Linked DNA regions of Homo sapiens: region 2 is linked to region 1. Evidence: fine-mapped expression QTL. A gene starts in region 1. The other region holds a variant in brackets. All regions are shown on one strand. Distances are from middle to middle.

Region 1 (5,203 bases):
ACAAAAGAAGCACTTAAGAGTAGATGGACCTAAGCGGATGCTATACTTTGAAGGTGTCCTCCAAAAGCATATGTTGGAAACTTAATCCCTAATGCAACAGTGTTGGGAGCTGGGACATCATGGGAGGGCTTTACCCTCATGACCTCATGAATGGCTTGAGGATGACTTTAGCTCTCAATCTCGATTTTTCTCTCTTTCTCACTCTCTTGTGCTCTCACCTTCCACAGTGGGATGATGCAGTAAGGAGGCCCTTGCCAGATGCTAGGCACCTTGATCTCAGATTTTCCAGCCTCCAGAACTGTAAGGAAATACATTTCTGTTCTTTATAAATGACCCAGTCTGTGGTATTCTTCTATAGCAGCACAAAATGGACTAATATGGGAGGGTTGCCAAGGATATCAACCATACATGAAAGGGGAAAGAGAAAGGACCAGGGAAGGTTCAGAAGCAATTCAGGGCTCTGGCAATGGGCAGCCAGAGGTATGATCCAGTAACAAAGCTGAAGTTAAGGAGCTAAACTTGATACAGAAACTCGGCAGATAAGCAGAGAGGAGGACATGGGTACATTTAACATCTCCTTCCTAACCAGGAAGGGAAAGGCAGAAAGGCCTGCAACCCAGATGTCTGTATAAGGCAAGTGAGGACCAGGCCATGTCAGCCTGTCACCAGGTCTGGGTCAGCACTGTGGGATGATAGTGAACTTAGGAATGTCTGTGGAAACATGTAAGTAGAGTAGATGTGATTCTATAGAATATTCGGACACTGAGTGTCTTACAGAATAAATCCTACTTGATGATGGGTCTGGCTAAGAGAAAAAACAAAACGAAACAAAGCAACAACAGCAACAAAAAAAACACTTCATTTAAAAACTGTCAGAATCAAACAAAATTATCTAGGTACTTTGGATATGGATATGATATTTCATACTCAGTATCTGACCATATGCTGAGCCATAAAACAAGTCCCAATAAATTCAAAATAATCAAAATCATACAGAGTATGTTTTCTGTTTACAACAGAATTGGATTATAAATCTGTTGATATTGCAAAAACCACAATTACTTTTGCACCAACCTAATATTTAGGACAATTCCATAGTTTGGAAATCAATCAACCTACTTCTAAATAATCCACGGGCAAAGAAGAAAATCACCAGGGAAAGTAGATAATGAAAGATAATGAAATACAGTTTTTCAAAATTTGGGTGATGTAGCTAAAGCAGTGCTTATAGGGAAATTTATAACTTTAAATGCTTATATTACAAAAGCAAGAAGACTTAAAGTCAATGACTTAAGGTACCACCTTAAGAATCCAGAAAAAAAGCAAAGTAAACCCAAAAGTAAACAAACAGAAGGAAATAACAAAGATAAGAGCAGAAACCAACGAAATAAAAGAGAGACAAACAACAGGAGAAAATAAACAAATTCAGCCATGTTTTGTGTGGCCAGAGAGAAGCCCAGCTCAGAGAGAAGCTGGGCGGGCTTCTCTGTGGCCACACGGATTGATTCATTTGGAGTGGGAGAGATAACATGAAATAATAGGTAATTACATCCTTTTGAGTTTTTTGTTTTGTTTTGTTTTGTTTTATTTTAAATAAGAGACAGGGTCTCACTTTGTGGCCCAGGCTGGAGTGCAGTGGTTCGATCTTAGCTCAGGGCAACTTACGTTCTTGATGCTTTTTGCTTTTCCCCCTCACAACCGAAAGAGAAAGTTTTTGCCAGCAGGTGGCAGCGCTGGTGCCTGAAAACGCCAAAAAGCATCGTCCTGGGTTGGCCCGGAGACTAACGATTGCCGCCGGGCTGACACGGGGCAGTCATCTGAAGACAGGAGACAGTCAATTCCAGAAAGCAAATCCCCACTCAAACTTAGAAAAAAGCGATTTTACAAAAACATCTGAACTCTAAATGTTGGTGGAGTTAAATCTCGAAAGACTTGGCTCTTCAAAGCCAGGGGTTCTTTACGGGAAAGTTGGAAATGGGCTTCAGAAAACCTCTCCCCGCATTGTATGCAAATCTGCCCCCCCCCTTTTCTTTTTCCCTGGGAGATCGTCCAGTTATCAGATTCTCAAAATGGACAGCGACTTAAAGCAATTAAAGACCACTGCGACAAATGCTCCTGCGAACACCACTCCGAAGTTAATGGCGCAGACGTCTGGACTTTAAAAGGTGGTGGTAAAGTGCGCTCAGGCATGGGTAGGAGGTGCGGCAGGCGGGGCACAGCTACTTGCTTTCATAATTTTTTTTTCTTCCTGATGGACCAATGCTGTGAAAAATCCTCAGTGGGGTTTTGGAGCCGAAAGGGAGCGACTGCAGTTTGCAGGCTTGCTATGTGTGCCAATCAAGGTGTTTCTCATAAATTTCCTCTTTTAATCCTTGCGGCAATCCTCTGAGTTCGGTGTTAACATCCTTAATATTATTCCTAAAAATCCATTAAGAGGGCTCTTAATGGAGTGCCAGCTTTTGTGGTCCTGGATTTTCAGTGGATGCACACACTGACCATTCCCCTCTCTCTTTTACATTCAAAACTTCCGTGAGATTTCCTTTGTTTAAATGAACTTTCCTTTATAGATAGCCTTTCATTTGTTTATTTTGTCTGCCTCTTTCAATCAAGAGGCACCCTCCCCTCACAATCGGCAGCATAAGCACAGACGTAAACGCAGGAACCAATGCGATTTTAGGTTGAATTTAGGACAGCGCTGGAACTTCACTTTACCCCTCTTGCGGTCACACGAGGTGGGCGGCGGCCCCGGCAGGGTTTGGGCGGGAGAAACGCGGTTCGGGACTCCGCTGCCGCCTAGGCGCGGGGCTGACCTGCGGGGGTGGGGTGGGGGGAGGGAGGTCGAGGCCCGGCCCCACGTGGCCGCTGCTGCCGGGCTCACCCCAGCCCCGCCCGGAGGCGCCCCGCGGCCCCGGCTAGCCAGGGCGGGCGGCCACCTCTGCCCTACTCCTTCCCTCCGCGTTCCGGGCCTCGGAGCCGCCTTGAGGAGGATGAGTCCCTGGAGCTGGTTCCTGCTGCAGACCCTCTGCCTCCTGCCCACGGGCGCAGCTTCGCGGCGCGGGGCGCCCGGCACCGCCAACTGCGAGCTCAAGCCCCAAGTAAGGCGCGCGTCGGGTGCTGGAGAGCCGGCCTCTCTGCACCTCCTTGGGATGGTTTCCCTCCGAACCCCGCGAAGCAGCGCTTTCGGACCCCGAGCCGACTTCCGCGGCTGGGCTTTCACCTAGCACCGCGGCGCTCCTTGCTCGCTCTCCTCTCCGTGCCCTCGGGTTCCCCTTTCCCGCGGGGGCGCAGCCCGCAGGCTCCAAGCGACTCAGTGCCCTGGCCTTTGCCCTCCGCCAGCCCAAGGGCGTCCGAGAGAGCCTCTGGGGTCTCGCCAGCCATTTTCGCGAGCTTTCGGGGGACGGATCCGCCAGGGAGTACCGGACCAGGAACTTGGGCACATTTATTTGAAGTTTCTTCTTCCCTCTCTTCCTTAAGAGTTTAATTTCACCTGCTCTTATCAAAATATTAACAGCGCCCTGAAGCTGCTTGGCTTAACCTTCATATGTTCAGTGCCTGAGTTAGAAGGGACTTTAGGGAGTTGAAGCCATTTCCCTTGTTTTTACCGATCTGGGAAACTGACACTCAGCGGGGGACCTGTGTGCTCCAGGTCACAGAGTGCGTTCGCGGAGTGACCACTGTCCGAGCCTTGCGTGTCCAGCCGGGCGCTTTAGATGTTCGCATCAACGTTTTGTGGGTGAGGGAAACCCAGGCAAGGGAGGCTCAGTGACCTGCCCGAGTCAACACAGCTCTATAGCGGACAGGTCTTGCGTCTCCGAGGCTGGACCTCTTTCGAGATGAATATTTCCTTCTCTGATCAGTTTTCCTACACTCAGAATTTTCTGTGGTTCTCGAGTCCCTCTCTTCTGAGTGCGGCATAGGTTGAATTTCGCGCATTTGTTCCGGTGGGTTTGATATCTGTGCGTCCCTGGCTCTGGAGAGGGCCATGCCAGGCTTATCCTTCTGGTGCGCCCGCGACGCGGGGGTGGGGGGGGTTGGGGGTGGGTTGAGGGAGTGGGGGCTGGAATTTAGAGGCCCACCTTTGATGACACCTGCGCAGCTCCCCGGTCTGCCTCCACCCCTGGCCATTCGCAATTTTATTCCTCATCCCAACTGCAGCAAAGCAGAGGACGGCCAAATAGAGCCGATCCTGGAGCTCCGGGCTGGGAAGACGCACGGTGTTCGCCTCTGTAAGGCGTCGCGGGGCTGCGGACGGCCCTCTACCAAGGCAGGAGGCGCGGCAGCTGGAGAGGGGAGTCTGCACCAGGCATGGTTTCAAACTCTGTTGCGGTGTGGCCGCTTCATGCTTGTTAGACAAGGCAGGAGTCCATCTCCTCACAAGAAAGCACATTGCCTTTCACTTCTGCAAAACCTATTACCGACTGGTAATTATGACGAGTGAGTCTGGATAAGATCTCTCTCCTTTAGAATCTGTCTTTATGAGTCCTTTATTCCATCGTCCTACCTTTTGGTCTCAGGACTCCTTTACGTTACAAAAAATTATCAAAGAAGCCCGGCATGGTAGCTCACTCCTGTAATCCCAGCACTTTGGGAGGCCAAGGCGGTGGATCACTTGAGCCCAGGAGTTGCAGACCAGCCTGGCCAACATGGCGAGACCCTTGTCTCTACAAAAAAATAAAAAAAATTACCAGCGTGGGGACATGTGCCTGCAGTCCCAGCTACTCCAGAGACTGAGGTGGAAGGAAACCTTGAGCCTGGGAGTGGAGGCCAGTGAGGTGTGATTGTGCCACTGCACTCCAGCTTGGGTGAAAGAGCGAGACCCTATATCCAAAAAAAAAAAAAAAAAAGTATTGAAAACCTCAAAGACTTTTACTTTATGTGAATTAATGGAGATAGTAGTAAAACACAACATAGCACACATTCCATTAGCCATCAGAGCAGTGACCTCATCACACACATGTAGCCTCCAGAAAATTCTACAGTACCTTGTGAGAAAATGAGGGTGAAAGGAAAATATCTTAGTTTTATAAAAACAGTTTTGACCTTATAGACTCCCTGAAAGGCTCTTGGGGACACCCACAGGTCCCTGGACCATACTTTGAGAATTGCTGTTCTATTCTGTGGGCAAACTCTGTCTTACCCCCTGCGGAATTGGGAAGGCCAATCAGCGGCACACATGCTGTATGTCTGACCCACATGCTGTAAG
Region 2 (5,203 bases), 54 kb after region 1:
AGCCAGCCCTTAGGGGTTCTCTGCGCCCTGCAGGACTGTGGGTCTTTCCTCCCTCACTGGCCTCTGGTCCCTTCTCAGCTCTTCCCGCTGGGCTGACTGGCCTGGGGTTCAACGCACTGTCCTTAGGGTGCTGGAGAGGGCCCTACCTGGGGAGTGTGTACGTGTGTGTGGTGTAATGTGTGTGGAGTATGTAATGTTTGTGTTTGTGTGTGTCTGGTGTGTGGTGTGTGTGAGGGGTGTGTTGTGTGTGATGTTTGTGTGTAGGGTTTGTGTGGTGTGTATCTAGTGTGGAATATGTGTGGGGTGTATGTGTGTGTGTGTAGTGTGCATGTGTATGGTGTGTGTGTGGTGCATGTCTGGTATGTGTGTTGTTTGGTACCTGTGTGTGAGGGGTGTGTGTGGTATGTGGGGTGTGTGTGGTGTAGTGTGGATGTGTGTGGAACATGGCTGGTGTGTGCATGTGTGGGTACTGTGCATGTGTGTGGTGCATGTTTGGTGTGTGTGTTGTGTGTATGTGTGTGGGGTATGTGTGCTGCATGTCTGATGTGTGTGTTGTGTACGTGTGGGGTTTGCGTTGTGTTGTGGTGTGTGTGGTACGTGTGTTGTGTGTGTACAGTGTGGTACGTGTGGTGTGTATGGTATGTGTGGTGTGTGTATTGTGTATGTGTGTGGGGTATGTGTGGTGCATGTCTGATGTGTGAGTTGTGTATGTGTGGGGTGTGCATTGTGGTATGTGTGGTGTGTGTGGTACGTGTGTTTTGTGTGTGTGTAGTGTGTGTGGTATGTGTGGTGTGTGTGGTGTGTGTGTGTGTGTGTGTGTGTGTGTGTGTGTGTTGCTGGTTGTTCCCAGGCTCCCTAATTCTGCCTCTAACCCTGACACCTGCCCTTGGGGAAAGGAAGGTCAGGAATCCGTCTTTTTAGAAGCTCTCTAGGAGATTCCGATGCCCAGTGAAGGCTGAGAACAAGTGTTCTCACTTCCCCGGGGAGAAAAAGAGCATTTATTGGTGGATCATCAGGTGGTAGCCAGGTTTATATGGGCTCTCTGTTAATTCTCAAAACCAGCCCGCAAGGGAAGTGTTCCTTCTCATTTACTAACGAAGAAACTGTGAAAGGCCACACTATTAACCAGGACCAGGAAATAGCACAGACCCCTCCACCTCCCAAACCTTTTCTTTCTACCCTTTCTTCTCCCACCTTTTACTTCCTAGCCTCTGTCTTTGTTCGTGCAGTTTCCTCTGCCAGAGATCCTTTCCCTACCCACACTACCCCCAGTTCTCTCTATCAGAATCTGTGAGATCCAGCACAATTGCCACATCTTCCTCCATTGCTCCAGCCTGGGTTCATCCTGTGCATGACCCCAAGGAACCTATGGTTTGTGCAAGAGCTCTCTCTTTCTTCTAGAGCCTTCCGGACAAGGATCTAATTTTCAAAATTGGATTTCCAGGAGTACCTATCCTGGCATCTGGCACATGATGGGATCTCAAATAGGATTGATTATGTGTTAATATCATTGCTGGTACTGCTCACATGCATTCATTTATTCAGCCAGTGGGGGACCTGAGAGGTTTTAGGGGTGAACGTGCATACAGTGGTCCCAGGTGAAGCCATGAGGGAGGATGAGGTCTCCAAAGGAGCTCCTGTTCAGGAAGAAGGGACAGGGTCCCGGGAGGCTAAGGGCCCAGGGAAGTGGGTTGGGGAGAATGCCCACAAAGAGGGGCTGGCAAGGAGGACCAGGGCAGTGGAGGGATACCTGTTTCCTTCTTCCCCTCCTCGGCAGCCATCTGGTAGTCCTTAAGGGATGATTCTGGTCATGTGGAACTTGAATCCAGGGCAGGCTGGTGTGGCTGGGGACATGAGGGCTGTTAAGTGGTGATTTAGCTTACTTAAGGCCCTGCCAGCTCCCTTAGTCTTGGGGTAGGCCAGTATTGGGGAGACAGAGATGGGTGTGCATGTTGGTGTGTGGGGAGGGCAACTAGCAGCTGCCACTCTCCACCTGTCAGCAGGCTGGAAAACACAGGAAATGCTCCTGAAGGTGAGGTTGCTGTTCTTAGAACAGAGAAGAGAAAGAGATGGGGTTCCTGTTGGGCTAATCTGCAGAGGGCTTAGCCAGTTCCTCCCT[T/C]CTCCCCCTGGGGTAATGGATACTATGTTAGTTTTCTATTGCTGCTATAACAAATTATCACAAACTCAATAGCTTAGAACAACACAGATTCATTATTGTATAGTTCTGGAGATCAGAAGTCTGACACAGGTCTCACTGGCTGAAACTAAGGTGTGGGCAGGGCTGCATTCCCTTCTGGAGGGTCTAGATAATTTGTTTTCTTCCCAGCTTCTAGAGGCTGCCCACATTCCTTGACTTGTGGAGCCTTCCATCTTCAAAGCCAGCAATATTGCATCTCTATAACCATTCTTCCATAGTCATATCCCCCTCTGACCACAGACGGGTTCTCTGCTTTTAAGGGCCCGTGTGATTGGATTGGGCACCCCTGGATAACCTGGGCTACTCTCCTCAACTTAAGGTCCTTAACTTAATACACCTGCAAAGTTCCTTTTACCGTGTAAGGTAATGTGTTCACAGCTTCCAGGGGCTAGGTCATGGACATCTTTGGGGATCTGGCAGATGTCCATTTGGTTACACAGCGGGGTGCTCTAAGGTTCTGGTCAGCCCTGCTAGGGTTTATACAGCTTCATTCATTCTCAGAAGACTGGGAGAAAGGGGGATGCACTTGAAGTAAGGATCTACTGTGTGCTCAGCACTGTGTGAAACATGGTGCTTGGGCTGTTTTAATCCTCACAGCAATGAGGTAGGATAGGTTAATTTTATGCAAGGGGCAGAGGCTCAGAAAGGTCAATTATCTTGTCTAAGGCTCCAAGCCTGGGGTCTTTTCCTTGTCAACCAGTGTGTTTCTTTCTTGGAGACTTCCATGAAGTGAGGAGGCTGCGTGAAATGCAGGTAGGGGGCAAATAAGCTATCAGCACAAGGGGGTAGCCCTATATTGTAGCCAAAATGACCATGGGCTTAGCTTTTGTGGGTAGAAGTTTAGCTAAACTGTGAGAATCCAGGTGGGTCAAAACATGGTAATCTAGATCTTGAGCCTGTGATGGGATCCAGCCCAGAGGCTCTATGATGGATTGGGTGTGTTCAGCAGCTGGGATTTTCTATTTGAGACAGAAGAGCAGCCACCTCTATTGACCTAGGGACCCTTAAACCCCTGTCTGAGCCCATGTGAGCATTTGTCTGTAGGATCTCCCTGGAGATTACAGTGACACTAATTTATACTCTCTATATTTTCTACAATGAGAATGGATTAGCTTTATGACCTGAAAAAAATCTCAACAATGAATGTTACTTAAAAATGGCAAAGAATTGGCCAGGCACGGTGGCTCACGCCTATAATCCCAGCACTTTGGGAGGCCAAGGTGGGTGGATCATGGGGTCAGGAGCTCAAGACCAGCCTGGCCAAGATGGTGAAACCTCGTCTCTACTAAAAATACAAAAAAACTAGCTGGGCGTGGTGGCATGTGCCTGTAATCCCAGCTATTTGGGAGGCTGAGGCAGAGAATTTCTTAAACCTGGGAGGCGGAGGTTGCAGTGAGCCAAGATTGTGCCACTGCACTCCATCCTGGGGGACAGAGCAAGACTCCATCTCAAAACAAAACAAAACAAAAGATGGCATAGAATCCTTCTTGGAACCTTGTGCAGGTCAGTTTCCTCCCCCTGGTCTTCAGTTTCCTTAATTGTAAAGTAGGTGTTATGATTCCTCAGGACTCCTTAACTCACAAATATAAGGGAGATAAAAACCAGGAAGAGTAAAGCTAATTCCTTCCTGATCCCTACTCTCCAACCCCCACCCAGGGCTATTAACTTGGCTCTTAAGCCCTGGCCTTGGCTACCTGGAGTTTCTGGGGTGAGGTCTTTGTTTGTTGTGAGTTGAACAGAAACAAAGCTATGATTTGTCTCACTGTGAGGATCCACTGTTTCAAACCATAGAACACAGCCCTAGTGAGTTAGAGACCATGTTCCTCACTAAATCAAAGCAACAGACTTTTCTTGAGTGCCTACCATGTACCAGGACCTGTTTGGGTCATATGGAGGCCAAGACATAGTTTCGGCCATGGGCAGAGGGCTTGATGGGCATGGAGCTACCTGATCATCTGCTCTTGAACCCTCTAAGACAGTGGCCCTCAACGTTTTTGGCACCAGGGACTAATTTTGTAGAAGAAAATTTTTCCATGGATCGGGGAGGGGGGGATGGTTTTGGGATGAAACTGTTCCACCTCATATCATCAGGTATTAGTTAGATTCTCATAAGGAGTGTGCAACCGAGATCCCTGGCACACACAATTCACAACAGGGTTTGCGATCCTATGAGAATCTGATGTCCCTGCTAATCTGAGAGGATGTGGAGCTCAGGTGGTAATATGGTTGCTTGCCTGCCACTCACATCCTGCTGTGTGGCCCAGTTCCTAACAGGCCACAGACTAGTGCTAGTCCATGGCTTGGGGGCTGGGGACCCCTGCCCTAGGAGGCCACCTGAATCCTAGAGAGCCATGATGGGGGCACATTCCCTTTCTGGGCTCTAGTTTCTTTGTTGTAACAATGAAAGGGTTCATTTAAGTGGCTTCACAGTTATGTACCAGGCATTGCGCTGAGCTCAGGAGACAGTAATAATATATTAAGCCCTGTCCTCCAGGAACCTTCTAGCTATGAATTTATGTTTCTGGGGTCCTTAGTCTCAGGTTCAGAGTAGGGGCATTTTTTAATCCTTTGCCATTTTAGGAATTCCCTTCTTTTAACTTTTTTGCCCAATATAAGTCTTTCCCTTTTTTGCTTTCCTTCTTGTATACCTCCTCCCTTCCTCACACACGGCCATTAATACTAACTGACTTCTCAGGTTCTGCCATGTCGTGGCTCAGAACTGGGACCCACTCTGGTAAGGTAGATGGTTCCTCAAGGCTAAGTAATTGAGTTCTTACATGTGCTGGTCAGTGGCACCTACATCATTGGACGAGGAAAGCCCTAGACATGGCGCATCCACTGCTCCCCTTCCTCAGGCAGATGTGAGTTTCAGGACTCTCACTACCTACCTACATCAGGAGACCAATGGGATTGACATCTAGTAGAATTCTTCTCTTTCTGCTCCCCCATCCCCTTCACCAAACCCTTGACAAAAGTTCTGTTGTTGGAAGAAACTTGGTCCTTATA

What was found. PIP is the estimated chance that this variant, and not a neighbour inherited with it, causes the effect.
Region 2: its variant is fine-mapped to the expression of TRABD2A in whole blood (TOPMed, PIP above 0.99). The same link has a PIP of 0.9 or more in blood mononuclear cells.

The regions. Positions count from the first base shown.
Region 1 is chr2:84,878,824-84,884,026 of GRCh38, reverse strand. TRABD2A (TraB domain containing 2A) reads left to right here and starts at 2,943. Exons shown (of 7, transcript NM_001277053.2): 1 at 2,943-3,095. The coding sequence starts at 2,988. RefSeq lists a silencer at 2,839-2,968 and enhancers at 2,698-3,198, 3,199-3,701.
Region 2 is chr2:84,824,995-84,830,197 of GRCh38, reverse strand. The region is part of intron 5 of TRABD2A (TraB domain containing 2A); the gene reads left to right. Among named protein-coding and RNA genes, the nearest start is that of TRABD2A, 53 kb to the left of the region's middle. The variant T/C (reference allele first, on the strand shown) is at 2,120.